Linked DNA regions of Homo sapiens. The protein of the gene in region 5 purifies or fractionates together with the protein of the main gene of each other region. This does not show direct contact. Each region holds a gene or a part of one and is shown on either strand. Other genes may lie near its edges. The genes, in order: MGA, ZNF292, ZMYM3, SCAI, ADNP, SOAT1 and PHAX.

Region 1 (3,500 bases), on a different chromosome or scaffold from region 5:
CACTCCACACACCTCTGCCAACCTTGTGATGACTCCGCAAGGGCAATTGCTCACCCTAAAAGGTCCCCTATTCTCAGGACCAGTGGTAGCTGTTTCTCCTGATCTCTTAGAATCTGATCTTAAGCCTCAAGTTGCCGGTAGTGCTGTGGCTCTACCAGGTATGTTGTAAGTGTTGTCCTCTATGGGAAGTGATAAAGTTATCCCTAACATCTCACGGTGACCAAGGAAGGCTTTGGATGTGTTCTGTAATGATAAAGAGCTATTCTGTTGGCATTTGCCTTGGTAAGAGGTGGCCCTATTTTTAGAACACATTTGGCTTGAGCTGTGGTACTGTTTGGTGTGTTTTACACCTGGTATTGGGAACCATTTTGTGAACACTAGTAATTTCTAAGAGGAAGAATAAAAAAGATATCAGAGGGAAAGGAAGATGTTAAATGATCATGGTCTTAGGTCTTGGTGTTGATAAATATTTGTCACTTTTTGTGGTACTCAGAGATGATAACAGTCCTGCATTATTAGCCCCATTCACTTTGAGCACTACTCTGTTTTGGGGCAAAGGGTAAAGTTGAAAGAGAAGCCTCACTTGGGTGATTAGGTTCCAGGCAACTAAATTTCTATTAAGATGAAAGGGTCTCTTTAGTAATATTAGGATCCTGGTTACTTTATTGCCATTGCCAGCCAAAATTCCTTGTCTCTACCTGTTGCCAAACTCACTCTGGAGGACTCATCTTTCCTGGTTCCCATGCTGCCTTTAGGGCTTCATTTTCTGCGCTAAGTAGCAGTTAATTAGGTGAACAGAATCAAGATGCATTTCTGCCTTAGGAGAAGAATTAACTTGGGGAGCATTTCTATAAAATAATTAAATGGAACTTTAAAAAATGGTGGAAAGAGCCTTTTGGTTGGATTTTAGTTGAGATTTTTCTTGTTGGGTTAGGTCAATAATTTGAAGAACTGATATTTCTTTCATCTTTTTGATAAAAGTAGAGTGCTGAATTTAGACTACAAATCCCTAAGATGGTTATATGATATGACAGAGAGAAAGAGAGGTGTTAACACTAGATCTAAATGAATTTTTCTTTTTTTAATTTTTGTTTTTCAGAAAATGACGACTTATTTATGATGCCACGAATTGTTAATGTGACATCATTGGCCACAGAGGGAGGTTTGGTAGATATGGGTGGCAGCAAATATCCTCATGAAGTTCCTGATAGCAAGCCATCTGACCATCTGAAAGACACCGTCAGGAATGAAGATAATTCCTTAGAGGATAAGGGTAGAATCTCTTCCAGAGGAAACAGAGATGGCAGAGTGACGTTGGGTCCAACGCAGGTTTTTCTGGCAAACAAAGATTCTGGTTATCCACAAATAGTTGACGTTTCCAATATGCAGAAAGCACAAGAGTTCTTACCTAAAAAGATTTCTGGTGATATGAGAGGGATTCAGTATAAATGGAAAGAGAGTGAATCAAGAGGGGAGAGAGTGAAGTCAAAGGATTCTTCATTTCATAAATTAAAGATGAAAGATCTCAAGGACTCAAGCATAGAGATGGAACTGAGGAAAGTAACATCAGCTATAGAGGAAGCAGCTCTTGATTCCAGTGAACTGCTGACTAACATGGAAGATGAGGATGATACTGATGAGACACTGACTTCACTGCTCAATGAAATTGCCTTTCTTAATCAACAACTAAATGATGACTCTGTTGGCCTGGCTGAACTACCCAGCTCTATGGATACAGAGTTCCCAGGGGATGCTCGGCGGGCTTTTATTAGTAAGGTTCCTCCTGGAAGCAGAGCAACTTTCCAGGTTGAGCACTTGGGAACTGGTTTGAAAGAGTTGCCTGATGTTCAAGGGGAGAGTGACTCTATCAGTCCCCTCCTCTTGCACTTGGAAGACGATGACTTTTCTGAGAATGAAAAACAACTTGCAGAACCAGCCTCTGAGCCAGATGTCCTTAAGATTGTTATTGACTCTGAAATAAAGGATTCCCTCCTTTCCAACAAGAAAGCTATTGATGGAGGGAAGAATACTTCTGGCCTCCCTGCAGAGCCCGAAAGTGTGTCCTCACCCCCCACCCTACACATGAAGACTGGCTTGGAGAACAGCAACAGCACAGACACTTTGTGGAGGCCTATGCCAAAGTTGGCCCCTCTAGGTTTAAAAGTAGCTAATCCTTCCAGTGATGCAGATGGTCAGAGTCTCAAGGTGATGCCTTGTTTGGCACCTATAGCTGCCAAAGTTGGGTCAGTTGGACACAAAATGAACTTAACAGGGAATGACCAGGAAGGCCGGGAAAGCAAGGTGATGCCTACATTGGCACCTGTTGTGGCTAAATTGGGCAACTCGGGGGCCTCACCAAGTTCTGCAGGGAAATGAACTTACTTGTCCTTAAGCAGAAGCCAGGCTGTGAGGGGAAATAGATCTCACCTCCTTTCTCTGCAGGCATCTGTTTGTTTGTGTCTTAGAACTTGGATCCTTGACTTCAATGATGCAGTGGATAATGATGGGAGAAAGGGGGTAGGGTGCTGACCCTGGTATAAGAAGTACTCTGAAATTCTGATCATGTTAAAATGTGTTACCTCACTTGTGGTGCTGGGTCCCCTCATCCTCTCTAAGAAGATGTGATCCATTACTGAACATGAGGTGCCCCTCTTACCCAAGGAATTTATAACATGACTCTGGCTCCACAGTGGTTTCTAGTTCTTCCCCCACAAGCGAAAGAGCTGTTTGCAACTTTGGAGTTGCTGTAGACTGAACTGTAGCTTGTAGCTGTTGAATTAAGTCCAAAATCTAAGGAATGCGATGGACTTGTGCAAAGGGATCCAGAAGAGACACTTTTTAGTTGATGTTTCAAGAATAGGGAGAGAGAGGATGGGTACCATGGAATACCAAAGTGAAGGACTTTGTGTCATTCAGTAAAATTTTCTTTTTTCATATCCTAAGTAGCTCCCATTCCCTCACCTTTTCAATCAGAATTAACAAATTCAAGCCTTCAGTAAAGTAGGGATGCTTTTAACTTTTATTATTAATTATTTTGAGATCTTAAAAAAATAGTAGTTCTCCCTTATTATTTTTGTGGGCATTGAAAAGCTCATTTCACAGTACCAGAGATTTTTACTGGGAGTATATATTTTGGAGGTAGGCATAGAGGGAGCCCTACCCCTTCCACAAATTACGTTACTCAAGAGACAGCTAAAATAAAATGCATTATCTCCCCAGACCAGAGACAGTGGCCAAAATAAAAAATCATGGGGCTGGAAATTTCCCAAATCAAACCAGCCTCCTGGTGCTTGAAGGTTTCATTCACTATTACCTGCACAGGATGTAAAGAAAAGTCACAGTAGGCACTCTTTACCAGGGAAATAAGGCAGTATTTGAATCACAAGATATATTTTTTATCTGCAACCATGGATCCAATGATCTGTAGAGCTTTTTCACTCATTAACTGTCAGGATATGAAGGACTGACAGTCTGTAAAGATATTTATATTTTTGTATAGT
Region 2 (3,500 bases), on a different chromosome or scaffold from region 5:
TTACGAGGCTGAGGTGGGAGGATCATTTGAACCCGGGAGGCAGAGGTTGCAGTGAGCAGAGATGGTGCACTGTGCACACTCCAGCCCGGGTGACAGAGAAAGATCCTGTCTCAAAAAAATAAAAAATAAAAATAAAATTGTATCTTAGCAATTATCACCTAGCATTTTGATACGAAGTTGAGTGAAGCAATGGTTAACAATTAAAGAATTTATTGGCGCAATCTAAATATAGTACCAGGGATACTAGGAGCTAGAAATTATGTCTTAGTTTCTAACCTTGAGATTATTATTTAACTTTTTCTGTTTAAGCTTTTCCTGTAAAACTGGGATAGTCACACGCTTCAAGAAGGCAAAGATGAATAAACGTTTGTCAAAGTTAATGGGCTTCAGAATTAATATTCTGTCAGTGTTGATGCTCAGTGCTTGTGTAACCCTTAGTTTTGCATTTACTTTAAAAAATGAATTAGTTTACATTCTATGTAATTTTTATGAGCAAAAGTTCAGTTTCTGGAGAATGTGGTGAAACCCACAGAAACAGGAGTTGCTTATGATCCGTAGTTTATAGATTTTTATTTTTGAGTGAGGTAGAAGATTAATAGATTTTTTGAATTCTGAGTAGCAGAATAGAAACGAAAGGCATTAAATGTTTTTCTTATTAACAGTGTTGTTTTGCTCATTCTGGAAATAAGCCACCTGCCCCCCCTTTGCTTATTTAAATGAGAATTTGCTTAAAGCTTAAGTGGGAGGAGGGAAGAGTAAGTAGAGGATGGGCATAGTAGAGCGCCCGTCATAAATTTTAAATTTTTTTATATATTTTATTTTATTTTTGAGAGATGGGGTCTTGCTACATTGCCCAGGTATGATCATAGCACACTACAACCTCAAACTCTTAGGCTCAAGTGATCCTCCTGTCTCAGCTTTCTTTTCTTTCTTTTTTTTTTTTTTTTTTTTTAAAAAAGATGTAGTTTAACTCTGTCACCCAGGCTGGTGTGCAATGGCGCAATCTGGGCTCACCACAACCTCCGCCTCTTGGGTTCAAGCAATTCTCCTGCCTCAGCCTCCTGAGTAGCTGGGATTACAGGCATGTGCCACCATGCCCGGCTAATTTTGTATTTTTACTAGAGACAGGGTTTCTCCTTGTTGGTCAGGCTGGTTCCGCCCCTCTTGGCCTCCCAAAGTGCTGGGATTACAGGCGTGAGCCACCACGCCCGGCCCTGTCTCAGCCTTCTAAGTAGCTGAGACCTCAGGCATACACCACCATGCCCAGCTCTTAAATTTCCTTGTATCTTTTCAAAGTTAGCTTTAATATGGGCAATATAACCAACTCATTTTCTTAAAATTGACTTAGAATAAGTATATAGAATAACCAGAAGTAATTTCTTGCATTTACTTGTTTTAGGATTATTACTGTATTTATTATACAAAAATTGGTTATAATTGGAACCTTTTAGACTAGTTAATTGTATTAGACTGGGCCAGTAGTCACTCATTCAACATTTCTATTGAACATCTACTGTATACAGGCTAGGCAAGGATGATCATGGTCCCTGGCTTCAAAGAGTTTATAGTCTCTGGAGGAAGGTAGACAGATAATCGTAGTAAACTATGATTTATATATTTTATCACTGAGGTGAGTACAGTAAAGAGGGAGGTTATTTGGGAGTTTTAAAAGAAACATTCCAACAGAGGAGTTGTTCTAAAGAGATTTTAAAATAATAGTTCGTTGGAAAAATTGGCCATTGTAATAGTTGATTTGTTGGAGTATGATATTTGCTGACAGCACTATATACTGGACTGGCCGACTGGTTGATTGTAACTGTTATTGACCATTGATCAGTAGTGATCTGGTGGCTGACAGTTGTTTTGAAGGGTTGAATTACAGTCGTGTGTGTATGTGTATACATACGTACATGTGTTTGTATATATATGTGTGTGTGTGTGTGTGTGTGTATATATATGCAAGGACCTAGGTTTAGATGTTACAGAGGATATAAGATACAGGAGACTCTAATAAAAAAATATGTTTGTGTGTATATATACATATATACGATGTGTGTGTGTATACATACATGTATACGGTGTGTGTGTGTGTATATATACATATATATGATGTGTGTGTGTATATATATATATATAATTTTCTTAGTTCATATAAGCAGGGCTTCTCAACTGGGCATAGTACTTTCCCTACCTCCAGTTCTCTCTTTGATGGCACTTAGAAATATGTGGGATCAGGTTTTTGGATGTTGCTATGACTAGGGATGTGGTACTGGCATTTAGTGCCCATGAGCTTCAATGCTAAGTTTTCTGAAGTGATCAGGACCGTCCCAACAAATGAAAGCGTAATTCCTCTAAGTACCCTTTTCAGAAACATTGAACAGAAAGAAAAATAGTATATCTAGAAGATTTTTTTTTTTAGTCCTTCTACTCTTTTCATATTGAGATAGTTAAGCTCCAGAAATATACTTTATTTGGAACAGGTCCAGGTAAATGATATTCAACAATATTTAAGTATAATTTATACTGACCATGAGAGGTCAAGAAACTTTCTACTTTCTTAGCAGAAATTACAAGCAATTGCATAAACAGTTAGTAAAACAACTTTTGCTAGGTTAAAGAGGGTAGCAAATTCAGCATAATTATCCTGATTAAAGAAAAGATTTGACATTTTGATATAATAAATTCTGTACTTTTAAGAAAGCATTTATATGCAAGGACCTAGGTTTAGATGTTATAGGAGATAAAAGATACGGGCAACTAGTGGGATATAAATTAGTAAGATAATATTTAAATATCACTTCAAAATGACAGCTGAAAAGATGTCAAAAGGCAGTGTATTAACTAACAAATTGTTTTGCTTTATTTTTATTTTTTTGAGACAGGGTCTCCACTCTGTCACCCAGGTGGGAGTGCAGTGACACAGTCACGGCTCACTGCATCCTTGACCAACTGGGCTTAAGCGATCCTCTTGCCTCAGCCTGAGTAGCTGGGACCACAGGTGCACATCAACATGCCTAACTTTAAAATTTTTTGTGGAGACAAGATCTCCCTACATTGCCCAGGTTGGTCTCAAACTCCTGTGCTCAAGCAGTCCTCCCACCTTGGTCTCCCAAAGTGCTGGGACTATAGGCGTGAGCCACTGCACCCAGCCTGGTTTTGCTTTTTTGTTGTTTGTTTTGTTTTGTTTTAAATTGAAAATGTACTAATTGAAATGGTTTTTTAAAATTCACCCTGAGAAAGGGCATACAATGAAAACTTGATCTTTTTCCCATTCTAGAGTTCCAGTCTCATTTCCACAAAGACAAATCCCCTAATGGTTTCCAGAACTAGTTTGCTCTTTTTAAGAAAATAAAGATAACTACACTGTATCTTGCTTTCCCTCCCCCCAAAAGCATCTTCTAGCTCATTCCATAGCTGCTCATGTAAGTTTTTGGCTTTCCCTATTATAGTATATAGTAATTCTAGTCTATGGCTGGGTCTAATTAATCAGTTCATTATCA
Region 3 (3,500 bases), on a different chromosome or scaffold from region 5:
TAATCTACAACTCCTCCCCATCTTCACAGGGCATCCTTAAGGGATCACACCCTTATCACTTCTAGACATCTTCAGCTGAATCACAGGCCCAGCCCCTTCTCCCCTTTCCCCTCCTCCTCCCTGTCCCTGCCTCCCCACACCCCCCATCCCCAAGTACTTACGGCCAAAGCGCAGCTCATCACCCTTGCTGGTTTCTCCATTGGCATATTTTGACTGCACCCAGCACTTCCAAGCATTGACACCATATGAATAGTTGAGCCCGGTACAACTAGGCTGACTGCTCATGGAGTCCCGGGAGCAGCTTTCGGAAAGCACCAGCCGCTTTTGACCCTGGAGGGGAAGAGAAAGCAGGGGCATGGCAGAGGTAAGGCCAGAGGCAAGGTGAAAGCTAGTCAGCACCATATTTACTGCTGGCCGGGGCAGGGGCTGATGTAAGCACACAGCAAGCTTCCATAGCACAGAGCCCCAGGAACAGCTTTGATGACCTTGTGAGATGGGGGGAGAGCAAAGTTTGGCTTTATCTCAGTACTTCTAGTGTTGGAGAAAGGAGGTTAGGGAAGGTCAAACTATGGTTGCTGGCTTGGCTCTCGCATCATCTCCCCTTTGGGCCTCCATTCTTCTTTTGTACATACAGTAGCCCCAGCCCTACCTTCCTCATGGTTCGGGGAAGGTCTTGTTCAGTAGACACATCCTCAGGCCCTACCAGGCCACAATCAAAGAGGAAGTCTACACTGGGATTAATGTCCAGAGGATCTAATGAAAAGGAAAGAAAGAAGAAATCAATTTCTTAAGATCTCAACCCTGCAGCCCTCCTGCCCCACCCCTGCTACTTGCCCACTTGACACTAGATGAGCCAAAGGAACCAGTAAAGCTATACCAAAAAGCATGCTCAGAGGCACAGAAACGCAAAACACAGCAATGTGAACTACTGAACCGTAAACATGTTGAACATGGTAAAATTTTATGTTTTTTTTCAGCTTAAAAATTAAAAAAAAAAAAAAAAAAAAAAAAGCATGACTCAGAAGTCTAAAAGAGTGCACCTGTCCTGGTGTCTCTGGCACTGCTCCCTGTGAGAACCTTCCGTCTTAGAATCACAATGAACACTTTTCAGGGTCATGCTCAGGGACACAAGGGACACTCCCTTCCTGATGGCACAAATGCTACCATACTCAGTGGGCATGGCTCCAATCTTACTCACTCTTAGGGAAGTCTGCCTCCAAGTCTTGCCCAGGCTCATCCAAGACATTGGCCATCTTGACTGCCATGGCCAGGACATCATCTCGAGCAGGCCCAAACAGGTCACAGTCTTCCAGGAGTCCCTCTGCACTCTGGTTGCTCACAAGATCTGGGAAGCAGAGAAGTTGGCTCAGTGGTTACAAGCTCCTGCTAGCACCCTCACAAGCTTTCAGGGACTGATCCCAACTATCCTCCCATTCTACTAGGCACCAAGATCACCAATACCACCCCCTCGGGCAGAGACATGCTGGTAGCACCCTGTCTCCCTCGTCGCCACCATCTATGGCATACCACAAAGGTCAGATGAGGCCTTGTCTAACTCCTCAGCCTCTGCAATCATTTCTGCCATAGCCAGGATGTCGGCCTCCAAGGGGTTGGAAGGGATCTTCACCTTCAGCTCCTCAATGGTCTCTACAATCTTGTCTGTGCTCTCCAAGGTAGTGGGCAAGAACATGGGCACAGGCACCTGGAGGCACGAATCCCAACTAAATGCCAAGAACCACACCAGCAGTTGGGGGGAAGTTGGGGGGACAGATGATGAGTGAAGGGGGACAGTTGATGAGAGTAAGGGGAAAGGAGGACCCAGCCAGGAAGGGCAGGGAAACTCACCGGGATAGGCATCGAGAAAGGCACCGGGACTTTCTGGCAGTACAGATGCATAGGCACTGGCACGAAGATGGGCACTGGGATGGGCAGCACGATCACCTGTGGCTTCCACTCTTCTGTGGATAAGAAAGGGGTCTTCTCAGAGACCCTGCTGGACTGGTCACATCTGACCCACCAAAAGCTCTAACATGCTCAGTGTCACAAAACTGCCCTTGAATCAAAGGCTGAAAGACACCTCTATGATTCTAGGACAACCATATGAATGAGGCTTCAGCTACCTAAGAAATCCCCTTGTCCAGCTCACGGACATAGGGCTGGCAGGCCTAGGACTCTGGAATACAGCCTGTGGCATCGAGGTACCCTGGCTCACCTGTTTGACTTCCTTTGGACTTCATCTCCACCTTGCAGGAGACGCCCCGATTCTGCATCAGTGGCTTACACATGGCAGCCTTGTTTTTGCGGGGTGTTGCTGGGGGTGGTGGGGGTGGAGGGGTGGGAGCAGTGGGAGCTGATCGGGTCTTCACAGGGATCTGCAAAGACAGAGGAACATTTGTGCCACCAACCGCCGTACCCTCCTCTGAGATTATCCTCCCCCTTGGCTTTTGCCCCGACCTTGCCCAAATTCCCATTTTCCTCTGGGGTCCTCACTGTGTTGCTGTTCTCCACTTTGGTTTGAGAGGGTGTCTGGGGTTTTGACTCAGGAGACTGACCTGTAGATCAAAACAAATGAATGCTCTCATCCAAGGGACTAGCTCTCCATTTTCCTTACCCCTGTTCCAGGAGAGCTTCATTAACAGGTACACCAAATACAGATGGGAACTTCTAGGATTTGACCCCCTTGCCATCCCAGATCTAGTCTCCTCTATGCCCCAGCAATAGCAGCCTAAAAGATTATTTGTTCCTGGAGAATGAAACATTACATTTTCCCCCAAAACCCACATTTGAGACCTTCCACTTAGATAGCCTGAAGAGTCTGTTATCCCTGGAGTTGTGGAGGGGCAGGGGTAACATTCTAGAAATAGCAGTCTTCAGTCTCACTAAATGTAGAGTTTATGCTGAGATTTCCTTATCTCAGAAACGTAACCATAACCCCTATATGCTCCATCCTACCAGGAAAGGCACCCACTCCCTAACAATATATATTTCATAGACAATCAGTAGATGCTAACTCCAAGAAGCTTTAAATAAGACTCCCCCGGTACCTGCAGGGTTCGGAAGCTAAAAGAGAATACAGTTCACAGTACTAGCACCCTATCTGGCCAGGGGTGAGCTGAACGCAAGAGGAAGGAGAAAGGGGCTAGGCTTAGGATTAGGAGAGTCCAGGCTCCCTCTAACAGAGTGTACCCCCTGCCTGGGACTCACTGTTCAGGAGGCTCTCGGGCCCACTCTGGGTATCCAGGTTGGGTTGGTTCTGCTGGCTATAGAAACGCAGAAGACACTGCTGGTTGCAGAAATGACGGATCTGCCCACGCCAGTGGATGGTCTCCAGCAGCTTCCCCTGGCGCTTACACGCATGGCACCGGGCAGCCTGAGGATGTCAAAAGGATGGTCAGACCTGCCTCCCTAAAATGCGTTGGGCCCTTTCTTTCCCCCGGGATAAGCCATGCTCCTCCCCTTGGAGATCGGGCCAGCTTAGAGATGGAAGGCTGGCTGCCCTC
Region 4 (3,500 bases), on a different chromosome or scaffold from region 5:
TGACAGGTGTGAGCCACCGCGCCCGGCCTAACACCTATTTTTTTAAATATCTGGCTACAACCATTACATCCTTATTCTATAATTCATCTTTGGGGTCTTAACTGTACATTTTGTTTTCTAGTTTTAGAGCAACCCCTGCACTGTTTTCTGAGGAAAATCTTGGTCCTGCCCATAGGACCTTTAAATACATGTGCTGGTTGTCCATTCAGGTCAAAATGCTGACATGATCAGGATCTAACCTAAATCAGGCATGCTGAATATGTAGCCTCATGATTCTGGACTGAGAAAATAAACTCATTGCAACCTGATGCTTACTTAAATTCCTGGAGAATTACTAAAGGATTTGTTCACTCAAAAATTCAATAAACTGTTCTCTACGTGCCAGATGCTATTCTAGCTGCTGGGGATAAACAGTGAACAAAACACGTATAGTCCCCACAGTGTACGCATCCCTCTTTACCTCTGAATCAAGCCAAACCATCAGAGAGCCATATACCAAAACCACATTGCTTTGGCCCCGTGGAGACTGTTCACTGGCAATAACTCACTTGGATTGAGAAGTATAAGAAGCAATCTTTATTTATTTATTTAAGACGGAGTCTCACTCTGTTGCCCAGGCTGGAGTGCAGTGGTGCAATCTCAGCTCACCGCAACCTCCACCTCCCAGGTTCAAGAGATTCTCTGGCCTCAGCCTCCTGAGTACCTGTGATTACAGGCACGCGCCACCATGCCCGGCTAATTTTTTGTATTTTTAGTAGAGATGGGGTTTCGTCATGTTGGCCAGGCTGGTCTCAAACTCCTGACCTCAGGTGATCCACCCGCCTCAGCCTCCCAAAGTGCTGGGATTACAGATGTGAGCCACCACGCTTGGCCAAGAAGCAATCTTTAAAAACTCACGTTTGATTTTAGAGATACCATGAATCTGAAAACTGAACTTTATTTTCTTCTTCATTTTACTCCAGAAAACTCAGAGCCAAACACCAAAGCAACCATTAGCAATGATGCAGGACTTTCCGGTCCATGCACTAATTCTGCCACTGGCTTTATCTGCTTCTTTCATTTCTTCTTGGCCTTTATTTTTAATCTTCTCATTTTGAAAAGAAGTGGGAAATAAAAGATATTTGATGGGTGTTTTTTAACCTAAAATTTATTGTGTACCTTCTATGTGCCAGGCACTATCCTAGGCACCTTACAACCTTGGGGAAGTCGAACTATTATTTCTTTTTTTTTTTTTTTTTTTTTTGGAGACAGAGTTTCGCTCTTGTTGCCCAGGATGGAGTGCAATGGTGCAATCTCGGCTCACTGCAACCTCCACTTCCTGGGTCCAAGCGATTCTCCTGCCTCAGCCTCCCGAGTAGCTGGGATTACAGACATGCGCTACCACGCCCAGCCAATTTTTTTTTTTTGAGGCGGAGTCTCGCTGTCGCCCAGGCTGGAGTGCAGTGGTATGAGCTCAGCTCACTGCAAGCTTTGCCTCCCGGGTTCACGTCATTCTCCTGCCTCAGCCTCCTGAGTAGCTGGGACTACAGGCACCTGCCACCACGTCCAGCTGATTTTTTTTGTTTTTAGTAGAGACGTGGTTTCACTGTGTTAGCCAGGATGGTCTCGATCTCCTGACCTTGTGATCCGCCCGCCTTGGCCTCCCAAAGTGCTGGGATTACAGGATTGAGCCATCGTGCCCGGCCCAATTTTGTATTTTTAATAGAAATGGGGTTTCTCCATGTTGGTCAGGCTGGTCTCAAACTCCCGACCTCAGGTGATCTGCCCACCTTGACCTCCCAAAGTGCTGGGATTACGGGCGTGAGCCACCACGCCAGCAGAACTATTATTTCTACTATATAGATGAGGAAACTGAGGCAGAGACAGGCTTATTAACTTGCACATGATCTCGCAAACTACATTTGACAGAGCTGAATTCAAATTCAGCCCAGACCATTTCATGTAAGTGTATGTACAGGCCATGATGGGACCCAATAAGGTGGAGCAGAGGGAGGGTGGGGGGAAGCCCTCACTGAGCAAAGTCTTAAAGGAGGGGGCTTGTCAAGGAGCAAGGAGAAAGTACTCCAGAAAGAAAAAGAAATCACATACAAAAACCCAAAGCAGACCAGGTACTGTGGCTGACGCCTATAATTCAAACACTTTGAGAGTCTGAGGAAGGCAGATAGCTTAAGCCCAGGAGTTCACGACCAGCCTGAGCAACATGGTAAAACCCCACCTCTACAAAAAATGCAAAAATTAGCTGGGCATAGTGATGCACATCTGTAGTCCCAGCTACTTGGGAGGCTGAGGTGGGAAAATCACCTGGGCCCGAGAAGTCAAGGCTCCAGTGAGCCATTGTCACACCATTGCACTCCACCCTGAAGTGAGACCGTCTTTAAAAAACAACAACAACAACAACAAAAACAACAAAAACCCTAAAAACAAAAAACCAAAGCAAAGAGGGAACATAAGTTCTGGGAATGGCAAATGGAGCACGGAGTTACATTCAGCAATTAATTCATCTTGAAGGTTCACCAGAAAGTTAAATCATTTAAAAGTAGACATTTAATAGTTCCATCATTGAAAATCGATATGGCCAAAGTATTAACCGTGGCTGGGAAAGTATGAAGAAGTAAAATAAAGGCAATTTTTTTATATGATTAGGCTAAAAGTCTGAATGATGTTCAATAAGCAATGAGGAAGCACAGAGGGATCCTAAGCATGAGAATTACAAGATCGATTTGCACAGTACAGGGAGGGAATTACAGATTCAAGGTAGGGAAACCAGTCAGAAGGCTACTGAAGAGTCTGGCAGTGGGGTAATGAGAGTTAAATGAGAGCTATCCAAAAGAAATACAATGCAAAGAAATACAATGCAAGTTAAATGTATGCAGCTTTTAATTTTCTAGTAGCCATATTAGAAAAAATAAAAAGAAAGGCTGGGTATGGTGGCTCACGCCTGTAATCCTAGCACTTTGGGAGGCCAAGGCTGGCGCATCACTTGAGCACAGGAGACCAGCCTGAGCAACACAGTGAGACCCTGTCTCTTACAAAAAATAAAAAGTTAGCCTGGCATGGTGGTGCACATCTGTAGTCCCAGGTACTTGGGAGGCTGAGGTGGAAGGATTACCAGGTCGAGGCTGCAGTGAGCTGTGATTGCACCACTTCACTTCAGCCTTGACAACAGAGCCAAGCCCTGTCTCAGAAGAAAAATAAAAAGGAAAAAGAAGTAAGTGAAGGCCAGGCCCGGTGGCTCACACCTGTAATCCCAGCACTTTGGGAGGCCTAGTCAGACAGAGCACTTGAGGCCAGGAGTTCAAGACCAGCCTGGCCAACATGTTGAAACCCCGTCTCTACTAAAAATACAAAAATTAGCCGGGCATGGTGGCAGGCGCCTGTAATCCCAGCTAATCGGGAGGCTGAGGAAAGAGAATTGCTTGAACCCAGGAGGCGGAGATTGCAGTGAGTCAAGATCACATCACTGCACTCCAGTACGGGCAACAAAGTAAGACTTTGTCTCA
Region 5 (3,500 bases):
CAATGCACGACGGTATTATACGCTGTAAATAACTGTATGTGCTATACTTCTATGACTGGCAGCACAGGTGTGTTTACATTAGTATCACTACAAACATGAATCATATGTTGCGCTATGATGTCATAAGGTAGCAAGTTTTTCAGCTCAATTATATTCTTATGGGACCACTGTCGTAGATGTAGTTCATCACTGACCAAAATGTCGTTATGTGGTGAATGACTGCGGTAAAATTCAGGGCCCACGATGTTTTAGTGCAATTAGACAATTACAAGAGATAAAGCTATATCTTTTATTCCTTTCCTCATTATGGATAAATTTTCATAGAAAAAAGGCAAATCTCCATTTTTTCCTCTGATTAAAGTACAGTGTAGTATCAGATTCAGCGCTGATCAAAAGAAAGACTGATTTGAAAAGTTGGCTTTCTTCTATAAGCCTTGCTGTTCCTTCTCAACCAAGAACACTTCAAAAGAGCTAATGAAGTAATAGCTGCTTTGATTCAAATCAAGAAGTTAAATAAAAATGTCCTACAGACTGTGAGGAGGGTGAGGTATTTAAAAGCCAATAATACATTATAGAATATACTGATATCAAAGAGCAACTTTCAGAATTATGATTGTTAACACCTATGCAGTCAGTCCTTTGATGAAGGCAGGTGAACTGACATGCTTGGTAAGAGATTATCTTTTCTCCCTAGAAACCTACTTGTTTCAGATACTGGTTTGAACCATGATGAAATACTCTGCTTCTCCTCAAAGCTCAACTCTTCTTTAGTATTCAGCTATGAGGCTTTCAGATTGATAAAACTGAATTAAATAAATGATGTGTCCCACTGGAAAGCATTCTCATTCTAAGACTGCTGGTTAGTAACTTTGCCTGGGGTATTTAAAAAAAAAAAAAAAAAAAAAAAAAAGTCAAATATCTGAGTACTAATTTCCTGAAAAGTATGTTCCGATAGATGAACAGATCATTAATGCAGAATGAGAATCACTCCTAAAATAGGTAATGGTAAAAATTAAATTGACAATTACCTCTCTCTATGCAGAAGGAAATATCACCTATATGACATCATCATCATCTATTGATACTTGCTGGCAGTGCTAATATTGTTTTTAATGCCAATTTGTAAGAAGTTTTATCTCTCTGTCACTGACATCCTACAGAGTCACTTCCCCAGGCCTCCCATAGAAGTTGGGTGCCATCAACATAGGGAAATAAGAAAAGCTTAAATGTAAGGAAGGGTCTTGTCTTTTTCTGTGCAGAAAAAACAAGAATGGCAACACAGATGCAGAAAAATAGAGCCAGAGCACTTTTAGGGGAAATGGTGGGATACAGCAGGCTTCGTAACTTTTAAGTAACAAAATTTTGTTTCTTCTTACACCTCAAGTTTTAGTCCAATGACAAAAAAGGACAAAAAGTTTTTCTTAGTCTTCCCACTGGTCAGGAAAATATGAAATGCAATTTTGACACTTTCGATGTTTGGCACTTGCCCGCAATCACTGCACCGCTATAAAAGGCCTAGAGCTGAAAAGGGAGTATACCAAGCATGCTGCCATCTGAGGAAGTCTCCTGTGCCACTTACCTGGTTTTTCGTAAGTGATGGGTCCCACAGTCCTACATCCTCCCATGTAGTGTTTTTCAAATAAAAGTCATTAGGTTCAAATTGTTTAAAATCCTAGAAAACAGTGAAATAAGTTTACAAAAACATAGTGGTATAAACGCTAACCCAATCTTACATGTAAATCTCACCTCTTAACTAAGATGGGGAGAGGCACAGGAAAACCAACGTCAACAAGGACTTAAACTAGGAGTGATAAGGCTCTTAAATATAAAAAGGCATATGGAAGTTGCAGTCTACATTTTATATCAACCAACCACTTTCCTGATGGTCAGTCAGGTTTCCAAGGAAATTGCTGGAAGTTCTAATTAAGTAAAAAATTCAGCCACACACTAATATCAAAGCACTTTTCATTAGAGTACTGTACTCTAACTCGTCAGTTACAGTACTGGAATGGTGTCTAAAATAGCAATGTTTGCTTACAGCACTGCAAATATGATTTCTGGTTCTGTGCAAAAAAAAGATTTTTTTCGAGGGGAGGGGGCAGGAGATCAGATCAGGAAGAAAACTCAAATTTCAAACCCAAAAAGGCAGAAAGAAAGCTATTCAAAGAAAGTTAAGCAGTATGATGTTAAATTTATACTCTCATGTAAAAATTTAATGGTCCACTTCCCTCCAGACTAGGAAGATTAAAAGTCTTAGGGTAAAATCCCACTTGTTCCTAAAAAGTTCACAGTTCAAGGTGGAAAATGAAGTCTACACATAAATAATCATAGGAGGAACAAATCAAATGCATGACAGAAATGTACTGTGATGTTGGTATTAATTATTTCTATGAAGATGACCCCACAGAGTGCAAAGTGAATGGACTGTTTCATTTGGGCAGATCTACCTGAACTCTGGGGTTGGAGAAGGGCTACTTCCACACTTGGAACAACGTGACTAGAGAAGTCAACTTTTGAGCAGCTTCTGTTTCCATGCCATACTCTTCAAGTATTATTAGTGGAACTCAAATTAAGAAAACCTGTTGTATGAATGAATTTGCTTTTTTACTTCCAATTCCATTCAAACACTTACTGATCACCTATTACGTGCAAAACACTGTGCTAGGTGCTGGGGCTAAATGGATAAACAAGGTAGCTATGTTCCCTAGCCACCTAGAACTTAAAGGTTAGTGGGGGAAACAGCTTCAAACATTTCTTTTCAATCAGGGGCTCTGACCAACAAACCATAAGACCTGGAACAGTGAGATGTTGAAAAGGAGACCACTGCATGGCTATCCCACAGAGCTGTTATAAAGCTCATAGAATAAAACAGCTTGAAAAACAGTTCATAAAGCCCAAACTGTTATACAAGGGGGAAAGTAATAGTCTATGATGGGTCAAAAGGGGCAACAAATGCTCAAATCCTAAGGAAAGAGACAACAAGCACCCACACAAGCACGCCTCAACAATTAGAAGAAGGTCAACCAGAACATTCAGGCGTATCAGAATGAGAACAGGCTTTGAGTCCCACAGACACTGCCACTTTCTCAGCTGCAAGGCTGGGCCTATTTATTTGTTCTTCATCTGTGAAGTGGAGATAAGAACTGCTACACTGCCTCCCGCCTCCATGGTTGTTCTAAGGATTAAATGTATAGACAACTTTACGGCACCTAGTTCAACGCCTGACATGCTTAAGTCCTCAATGGTAGCCTTCTGCTTCAGGATGCAAAAATGAAAAAGCCCATTTTAGGGAGAAAGGCACAAGTTAATGCTATTGAGAATGTTTTCGTGAAGCTACTGCTGTGGCTGAAATTCAGAATCACATCTAAGATTTAGCCATCTTGGCCACTGACACAAAGTAATGGATCAGAAGCTGAGTCATGTTAAAATTTAAAAATGACATGCTACTTACTTCTATATGTTCTTTACAGTATTCCAACCCAATGTCACTAAGTATTTTT
Region 6 (3,500 bases), on a different chromosome or scaffold from region 5:
GAAAAAGACCAAAGGGAGATTATTTGTTGGCAACAAGACTCATAAGAAACTATCCATTATTGGTGGATCATTTCAACTCCAACAACCTCCATGCATTCTTACTTTGTTATGTAAGATAAAATTCAGAGCAAAAGACACAGTATTAGACCTACTAGTGTACACACAGTGGTTTCTAAGCAGTACCATTCAAAGCAGGTTTCTAGATGTAAATTTCTCAAAAGAAAACTGAAAAGATACTATCACCCTTTCCTCATGAGCAATTAAATATAACTTCTTCCAGCTGTATAATACTCATACTTTCTGAAAAAGAATCTCCATTTCATAAATAATATCAACTTAAACCTTGCTACTTACCCAGAGAAAGTCCTTGTAAGCATAGTAATATAGCCAGTCATGGACCACCACATTCCAGGTTCTATAATAGTTGGAGTATGACGTGGAGTTCCACCAATCCTGAGGGAAAAAGTAAAGGTATAAAACTACACACACACACACACACACACACACACACACACACACACACACACACACACACATCCCACCCGAAAGCAAACCCCCCTGACTTCCCAAAGAACATATGTAACAGAAAAATCAAATTATACTGTGATAAACTGTTGGTTCATACACTGGTGACAGAAAAATCTTCAAAGGCATTTTGGTTATTAGTGTTGAATATGACATGAATTCTCATACTATATATGATTTAGTTCCTAGGTTCATACGGAACACATAGAATCATTTAAATCTAATGTTCATCTAAACAGCAATCAGTAAGCCCCACCCCCCTTACCCTACTAGAATGTCATGAGAAAATTCTATGGTCATGAAGACCAGAGAGAGTGCTAACACTAGAGAGCTGTTTGGTGGTTACCATAAATGGCAAAATTATCCAGGGTGAGATGGTGGCTACCTCAAAGTCCTGGTATCCCTATATATGCTTCTTGCTCCCAATATTAAGATCAGATGAATGAAATCAGGTATCTAAAATCTGCAATCCACACTTAAAGTTTCTTTGAGAAAAAAGGTGGTAGACTTGGAGTGTTGCCAAAAACAACTCAAAGAGAGCTTTAGGTAGGGTTAAAGAATGCTATGAGCCATTCTGACTCTAATTCTATAGCTTAATTCCAACTTTAGAAGCATAAGGATACTATCTGAAGCAAAATTAACACCTTTCAAAACTAAAGAGGGAAAAGTTATTTCCCTCATGAACTGCTCAATTGTCTTAAATGGAATAATTTGCTGAGGTCATTCCTACAGAACTAGACGGTCCATTTCAAATGAATGAACACTCAGGGAAGTCTCATGGTGTGCTCTGAACAAACAGTTTCCTACTGGAATCACCAATATATCCTTGCAGGATCCAGCAGAAACCATGTGCTTATGTTAAGGGAGCAGATATTAGAGACAGAAGAAAACACAAGGTTATGCTAGTTATATCTGTAACCGAATTTCAGAAAATACTGGCAAAACTTGTAGAAAAGAAAATTATTTCACAATGTTTGTGTGAAAGGCTGGTGACATTAGCCAACAATGTCAAAATACTAATAATGAAGAAGTTAATAAAATGTAAAAAGAAAGCTAAGTCTAAGTATATACTACCTTATAGAACATCCTGTCACCAAAGCGTAACATCTCAGCAAAGGCATTGAGCCAGCAGTGCAAAAAGGCAAAAAAAGTAAGGAAGAGAATCAGCACACCTAAAAATAAGATTAACAATATTAACAGTCTTTCCAAATAGCTCACATACCAAGCAACTAATTATATCACATCATTTTATTTAGCTGGGATTATTTTGTAAAATATAAGTTATTATTCCAGTTTACCCATTCCAGAGATGATATACTTTTGGAGTTAATTATCTTAATTTTAAAACAGTAACTTCCTTCAAAGTGGGTTCAACAAATGACATTACCCAGTCTGGTTTTTTTTTTTCTTTTTTGAGACAGAGTCCTGCTCTGTCACCCAGGCTGGAGTGCAGTGGCGCGATCTCGGCTCACTGCAACCTCTGCCTCCAGGGTTCAAGCAATTCTCCTGCCTCAGCCTCCCAAGTAGCTGGAACTACAGGCATGTACCACCACATCTGGCTAATTTTTTGTATTTTTAGTAGAGACCGGGTTTCACCATGTTGGCCAGGCAGGTCTCAATCTCCTGACCTTGTGATCTGCCCACCTCAGCCTCCCGAAGTGCTAGGATTACAGGCGTGAGCCATCGCGCCCAGCCTACCCAGTCTGTTTTTAAGAAATGCCTAAATATATGGCTTAACTTAGTACCCAAGGTCCTTTAAAAATCTGGCCCCCATACCCCCCTCTTAAACAATTGTTTAAAACTGGGAGAGATTTTGCCCCCTCTCCCCCACAGGACATTTGAAATTCTAGAGACTTTTTGTTTTTAAAAGACAGGGTTTCACTATGTTGCCCAGGCTGAACTTCAACTCCTGGGGCTCAAGTGATCCTCCCACCTCAGCCTCCAGAATAGCTGGGACTACCGGTGCAAGCTACTGCACCAGTGCTGTGACAATTGGAGGAGAGGGAGTGGTGCCACTGGTATCTAGTTGTTAGAGGCCAGGATGCTGCTGAACAGTTTATGCTACAATGCAGAAGAATGCCACTCCAAACAAAGAATTAACCAGTCCAAAATGTTAATAGTGACATGGTTAACATAGTGACATGGATAACATTCTAAACATATCTCCAGTGATTCTACCCTCTAAGTGTTGTAAACATTATCCACAACTGGGTTTATGCCATTCCAGAATGCTCCATGCCCTTGCATCCATCCCACTACCTAGAATGACCTTTCCACCAATTCTCTGCCAGGCAAATACCTACCTATTTTTCAATACCCAATATTAAATGTTATCTCTAATGTGAAACAAAGGCCATAAGCATTTTGTTTATCCTACTTATGTAGTACATATTACAATATATTGTAAAATATCCATTTATATGTCCATCTCTTTCACTCATTTATTGAAAAATATATATTTATAGAGCATCAACTATGTACCAGACAATATGAGAGAGACTGTGATTGGCTATAAAACACAATCCTTGAACTCAATAACTTTGCAGCTAGTGAGGAAGACACTCAAGTATGTAACACATATTCTATTTTAGGGACAGATACAGAGTTCATTCAAATAAGTCCTGGGGCTGGTGAGGGAGGGTTACTGGAAGAGGAATGCAAGAGAAGAAAAGAAAGGGAAGGTGATGACAGAAAACATTACCAACATTCAATGAGTAAAGAAAAGAGGAAAAGTAAGGGAAACTATAAAAGCTCCCAGACTGTAAAGATAATACATCTCTTGTTCACTTCTGAGTCCTCTGCACCTGGCATAGTACTAGGTACTCATATATCTCTATAATAGACAAAAAAATGCAATAAATATATTTAAGAAATCAAGGTATGGTCGGAAAGACAGGAGGAAAATAAGAAATAGTGGCAAAAGGCCAAGCATGGTGGCTCAAGCCTGTAACCCCAGCACTTTGAGAGGCTGAGAC
Region 7 (3,500 bases), on a different chromosome or scaffold from region 5:
TTCCTTGAGCTCACAAGTTCAAAACCAGCCTGGGCAACATGGTAAAACTCCATCTCTACTAAAAACACAAAAAATTAGCCAAGCGCGGTGGCACGCACCTGCAATCCCAGCTACTCAGAAGGCTGAGGTGGGGGATGGCTTGAGCCTGGGAGGTGGAGGATACAGTGAGCTGAGATCGCGCCACTGTACTCCAGCCTGGGCAAGAGAGCCAGACTGTGTCTCAAAAAATAAAATAAAATAAGAAAGTAAATTTGAACTTGCATCTTCCCAATATTCAGTAAATCTGCATTAGCTCACTGGAATATAAAGTTTTATCACTACAGTACTAAAATATTGATGAAATCTGTAACTCTGTGTTCAACTGAATGAAAATTGAAGTACTTTAACAATGACACAAATAGGGATGGCAGTGCATTCATGATTATTATAATTTCTTTTGTTGCTAACTTCTGTTTTGACTTCTGTAATTTATGTTCACAGGCTGTTTCCTTAGCCAATGCTATTAATCCTAACTGGGTTTTTTTTCTCCCCATGTCCAAAGCACAATATTGATCTACTCCCTTGTGATGTTATTACAGTATTCAGACTTATCAGTAACAAAAAACAAGGAAGTCATTCAAACCTTCATCCTCACCCTGTGGTGAAAGCTGAATTCAATGAGATATGCCAAACCCTTCTATAACCGCCAGTGCTCGTGATCTGGCCTAGCCAGAGGAGCTCTTTCTGTCATTCTGAAACAGTAAAGAGCTTCTCAAACTTTTCTCCCATTATTGCTCTACCACCCCAGGAACTTTTTAGACTTCCCCCAACTTTCATTCTTATACCCAGGAAATTTTAATACACACAAAAATACTGTATACCTATTTGTACTTTATTGTGTATCTATCTGTGCTTACATAACAAAAGTGTTGACCGGGCACAGTGGCTCAAGCCTGTAATCCCAGCACTTTGGGAGGCCGAGGCAGGCGGATTGCCTGAGCTCAGGAGTTCTCAACCAGCCTAGGCAACATGGTGAAAGCCTGCCTCTACTAAAATACAAAAACTAGCTGGGCGTGGTGGCAGGCTATAGTCCCAGCATACTTGGGAGGCTGAGGCAGGGGAATTGCTTGAACTCGGGAGATGGAGGTTTCAGTGAGCTGAGATCGTGCCACTGCACTCCAGCCTGGGCGACAGAGTGAGATTCCGTCTCAAAAAACAAACAAACAAAAAAAAGGGTGTTTTGTTTTTTTTTTTTGCCCTCTTTTTCAAGAATGCATGAATTAAGTGAACCAAAATGAACACTTCTGTTTACCATTGCTAAAGTGCTGGGCACTGTGGTCAGTATTTCATGTGCACCATCTCCTCTAATCCTTAAAATGTAGGACTAATCTCCATTTTACAGCTGAGGAGACTGAGGCTCCAAGAAGTCAAACAACTTAGCCGAATTTCAATTAGTATGTTGAAAATCTAGAAGTAAAAAAGGGTACCCAAACTCTAAAACCCATATTCTCAAGATCTGAGCTCCTAGGCTCCCCTAGACTTTGTCGTCTTAAAACTTCAACCCTTTGGCCGGGTGCAGTGGCTCACGCCTGTAATCCCAGCACTTTGGGAGGCCGAGCTGGGTGGATTGCCTAAGGTCAGGAGTTTGAGACCAGCCTGGGCAACATGGTGAAACCCCGTCTCTACTAAAAATACAAACGTTAGCCGGGTGTGGTGGTGCATGCCTGTGATCTCAGCTACTTGGGGGGCTGAGGCAGGAGAATTGCTTGAACTCGGGAGGCGGAGGTTGCAGTGAGCCGAGATTGCGCCACTGCACTCCAGTCTGGGCGACAGAGCGAGACTCCTTCTCAAAAAAAAAAAAAAAAAAAAAAATTCAACCCCTACCTTTAACAAATCATGTAAGAAATGTTTTGGTGACTATACGGCAACAGGCTATAATTTATGTTTGTTTGTTTGTTTTTTTGTCAGGGAAGTACTAACTGCAAAAACAACTGTACTAATTTTTTTTTCTTTTTATTCTTTTTTTTTTTGAGACGGAGTTTCGCTCCTGTTGCCCAGGATGGAGTGCAAGGGTGCGATCTCAGCTCACTGAAACCTCTGGTCTCTCAGGTTCAAGTGATTCTCCTGCCTCAGCCTCCTGAGTAGCTGCGATTACAGGTATGTGCCACCACGCTTGGCTAATTTTGTATTTTTAGTAGAGACAGGGTTTCTCCATGTTGGTCAGGCTGGTCTCGAACTCCCGATCTCAGGTGATCGGCCCGCCTCAGCCTCCCAAAGTGCTAGGAATACAGGCTTGAGCCACCGTGCCTGGCAACTAATTTTTTTTTAACAGTCTTCATTGTTGATAATAGTTTAAAAACTTCAAACATACTGTAAGAATGCATGATAAATCACAGATCCAACAAGGGCAAAGTTAAATTTGTAATCAAAAACAAAAACACAGGATAAACAATACAAAAACAAAAACAGTTAAGCAGTCTTACCATTATAAAGAGACCACCATTTTGTTCAACTTCAGCGGTTTCCATCAGAAGTTCAATTGCCTTTTTGTTACCAATAATCCTCACTACTCGGGCTATCAGGTCTTTCTTTGGTTCCTGTAACCTGATGAGAAACAAGTAAAATTATCCTCTTTGTTTGTTGTACAAAGTTGAAGAAATCTACCTTAGTCACCAGCTAGAATAAAAATCTGATTCTAGTAACTTTTGGTTTTCTAAATCTTCAATATTTAATCTTGGAATCACTGACATGTAAATATTCCTAATCTTGGGTCACAGAAGGAGATGGTAACCTCAAGTTTCCATCTAAACTCTCATAATTGGCTTATTTGTCTTATTGGATTATAGCAGATTTCAAAATGCACATGCAGCACGATGAATGCAGGTCTGAATGCAAAAGATGATAAAGGCAGTCCACTATTGTCAAAATAAATAACAGACATATATACTTTCAATTATTACGCCTAAAAGCTAAGGCTCACATAATTCCAGAGATGTCTGGAGCTTTAAAATGGGATAGGACCTTTCCCTCATAGACTCCCTGCCTCAGAACAAAAAATAGAAACAGCTAATATTTACTGATGGCTTATTATGATTATAATAAGCACAATCCTAAGAACCTTACATGCACTATGCCAGCTGATTCTCTCAAGAATGTACAAGATAGGTACTATCGTTTTCATTTTGTCACTGAGAGGTTAGAAACATAGGTAGCCTAAGTAATTCTTCCAGTGTCAAAGCTCACACTCTCAACAGATCAAGAATTCAGCTGGGTGTGGTGGCTCACACCTATAATCCCAGCATTTTGGGAGGCCGAGGTGGGTGGATCACCTGAGGTTGGGAGTTCGAGACCAGTCTGACTAACGTGGAGAAACCCCGTCTTTACAAAAAATACAAAATTAGCTGGGTGTGGTGGCACATGCCTATAATCCCAGCTACTTGGGAGGCTGAGGCAGGAGAATTGCTTGAACCCTGAGGCTGAGGCAGAGGTTGCAGTGAGCCAAGATGGCACCACTGCACTCC

Evidence for each region.
Region 1: the proteins of ADNP (region 5) and MGA purify together in Homo sapiens (affinity purification with mass spectrometry, with the first as the bait; one large-scale study listed by BioGRID). This does not show direct contact.
Region 2: the proteins of ADNP (region 5) and ZNF292 purify together in Homo sapiens (affinity purification with mass spectrometry, with the first as the bait; one large-scale study listed by BioGRID). This does not show direct contact.
Region 3: the proteins of ADNP (region 5) and ZMYM3 purify together in Homo sapiens (affinity purification with mass spectrometry, with the first as the bait; one large-scale study listed by BioGRID). This does not show direct contact.
Region 4: the proteins of ADNP (region 5) and SCAI purify together in Homo sapiens (affinity purification with mass spectrometry, with the first as the bait; one large-scale study listed by BioGRID). This does not show direct contact.
Region 6: the proteins of ADNP (region 5) and SOAT1 purify together in Homo sapiens (affinity purification with mass spectrometry; one large-scale study listed by BioGRID and IntAct). This does not show direct contact.
Region 7: the proteins of ADNP (region 5) and PHAX fractionate together in Homo sapiens (co-fractionation; one large-scale study listed by BioGRID). This does not show direct contact.

The regions. Positions count from the first base shown.
Region 1 is NC_000015.10:41,764,905-41,768,404, forward strand, and holds part of MGA (MAX gene-associated protein), read left to right. Parts: coding exon 1-158; intron 159-1,099; coding exon 1,100-2,376; 3' UTR 2,377-3,500. UniProt on the Homo sapiens protein: Functions as a dual-specificity transcription factor, regulating the expression of both MAX-network and T-box family target genes. Functions as a repressor or an activator.
Region 2 is NC_000006.12:87,158,565-87,162,064, forward strand, and holds part of ZNF292 (zinc finger protein 292), read left to right. Parts: intron 1-3,500. UniProt on the Homo sapiens protein: May be involved in transcriptional regulation.
Region 3 is NC_000023.11:71,244,141-71,247,640, forward strand, and holds part of ZMYM3 (zinc finger MYM-type protein 3), read right to left. Parts: intron 3,371-3,500; coding exon 3,205-3,370; intron 2,553-3,204; coding exon 2,455-2,552; intron 2,373-2,454; coding exon 2,213-2,372; intron 1,959-2,212; coding exon 1,846-1,958; intron 1,703-1,845; coding exon 1,528-1,702; intron 1,346-1,527; coding exon 1,199-1,345; intron 754-1,198; coding exon 650-753; intron 331-649; coding exon 162-330; intron 1-161. UniProt on the Homo sapiens protein: Plays a role in the regulation of cell morphology and cytoskeletal organization.
Region 4 is NC_000009.12:125,137,029-125,140,528, forward strand, and holds part of SCAI (protein SCAI), read right to left. Parts: intron 1-3,500. UniProt on the Homo sapiens protein: Tumor suppressor which functions to suppress MRTFA-induced SRF transcriptional activity. May function in the RHOA-DIAPH1 signal transduction pathway and regulate cell migration through transcriptional regulation of ITGB1.
Region 5 is NC_000020.11:50,900,438-50,903,937, forward strand, and holds part of ADNP (activity-dependent neuroprotector homeobox protein), read right to left. Parts: coding exon 3,452-3,500; intron 1,673-3,451; coding exon 1,580-1,672; intron 1-1,579.
Region 6 is NC_000001.11:179,345,797-179,349,296, reverse strand, and holds part of SOAT1 (sterol O-acyltransferase 1), read right to left. Parts: intron 1,698-3,500; coding exon 1,600-1,697; intron 454-1,599; coding exon 355-453; intron 1-354.
Region 7 is NC_000005.10:126,607,447-126,610,946, reverse strand, and holds part of PHAX (phosphorylated adapter RNA export protein), read right to left. Parts: intron 2,584-3,500; coding exon 2,463-2,583; intron 1-2,462. UniProt on the Homo sapiens protein: A phosphoprotein adapter involved in the XPO1-mediated U snRNA export from the nucleus.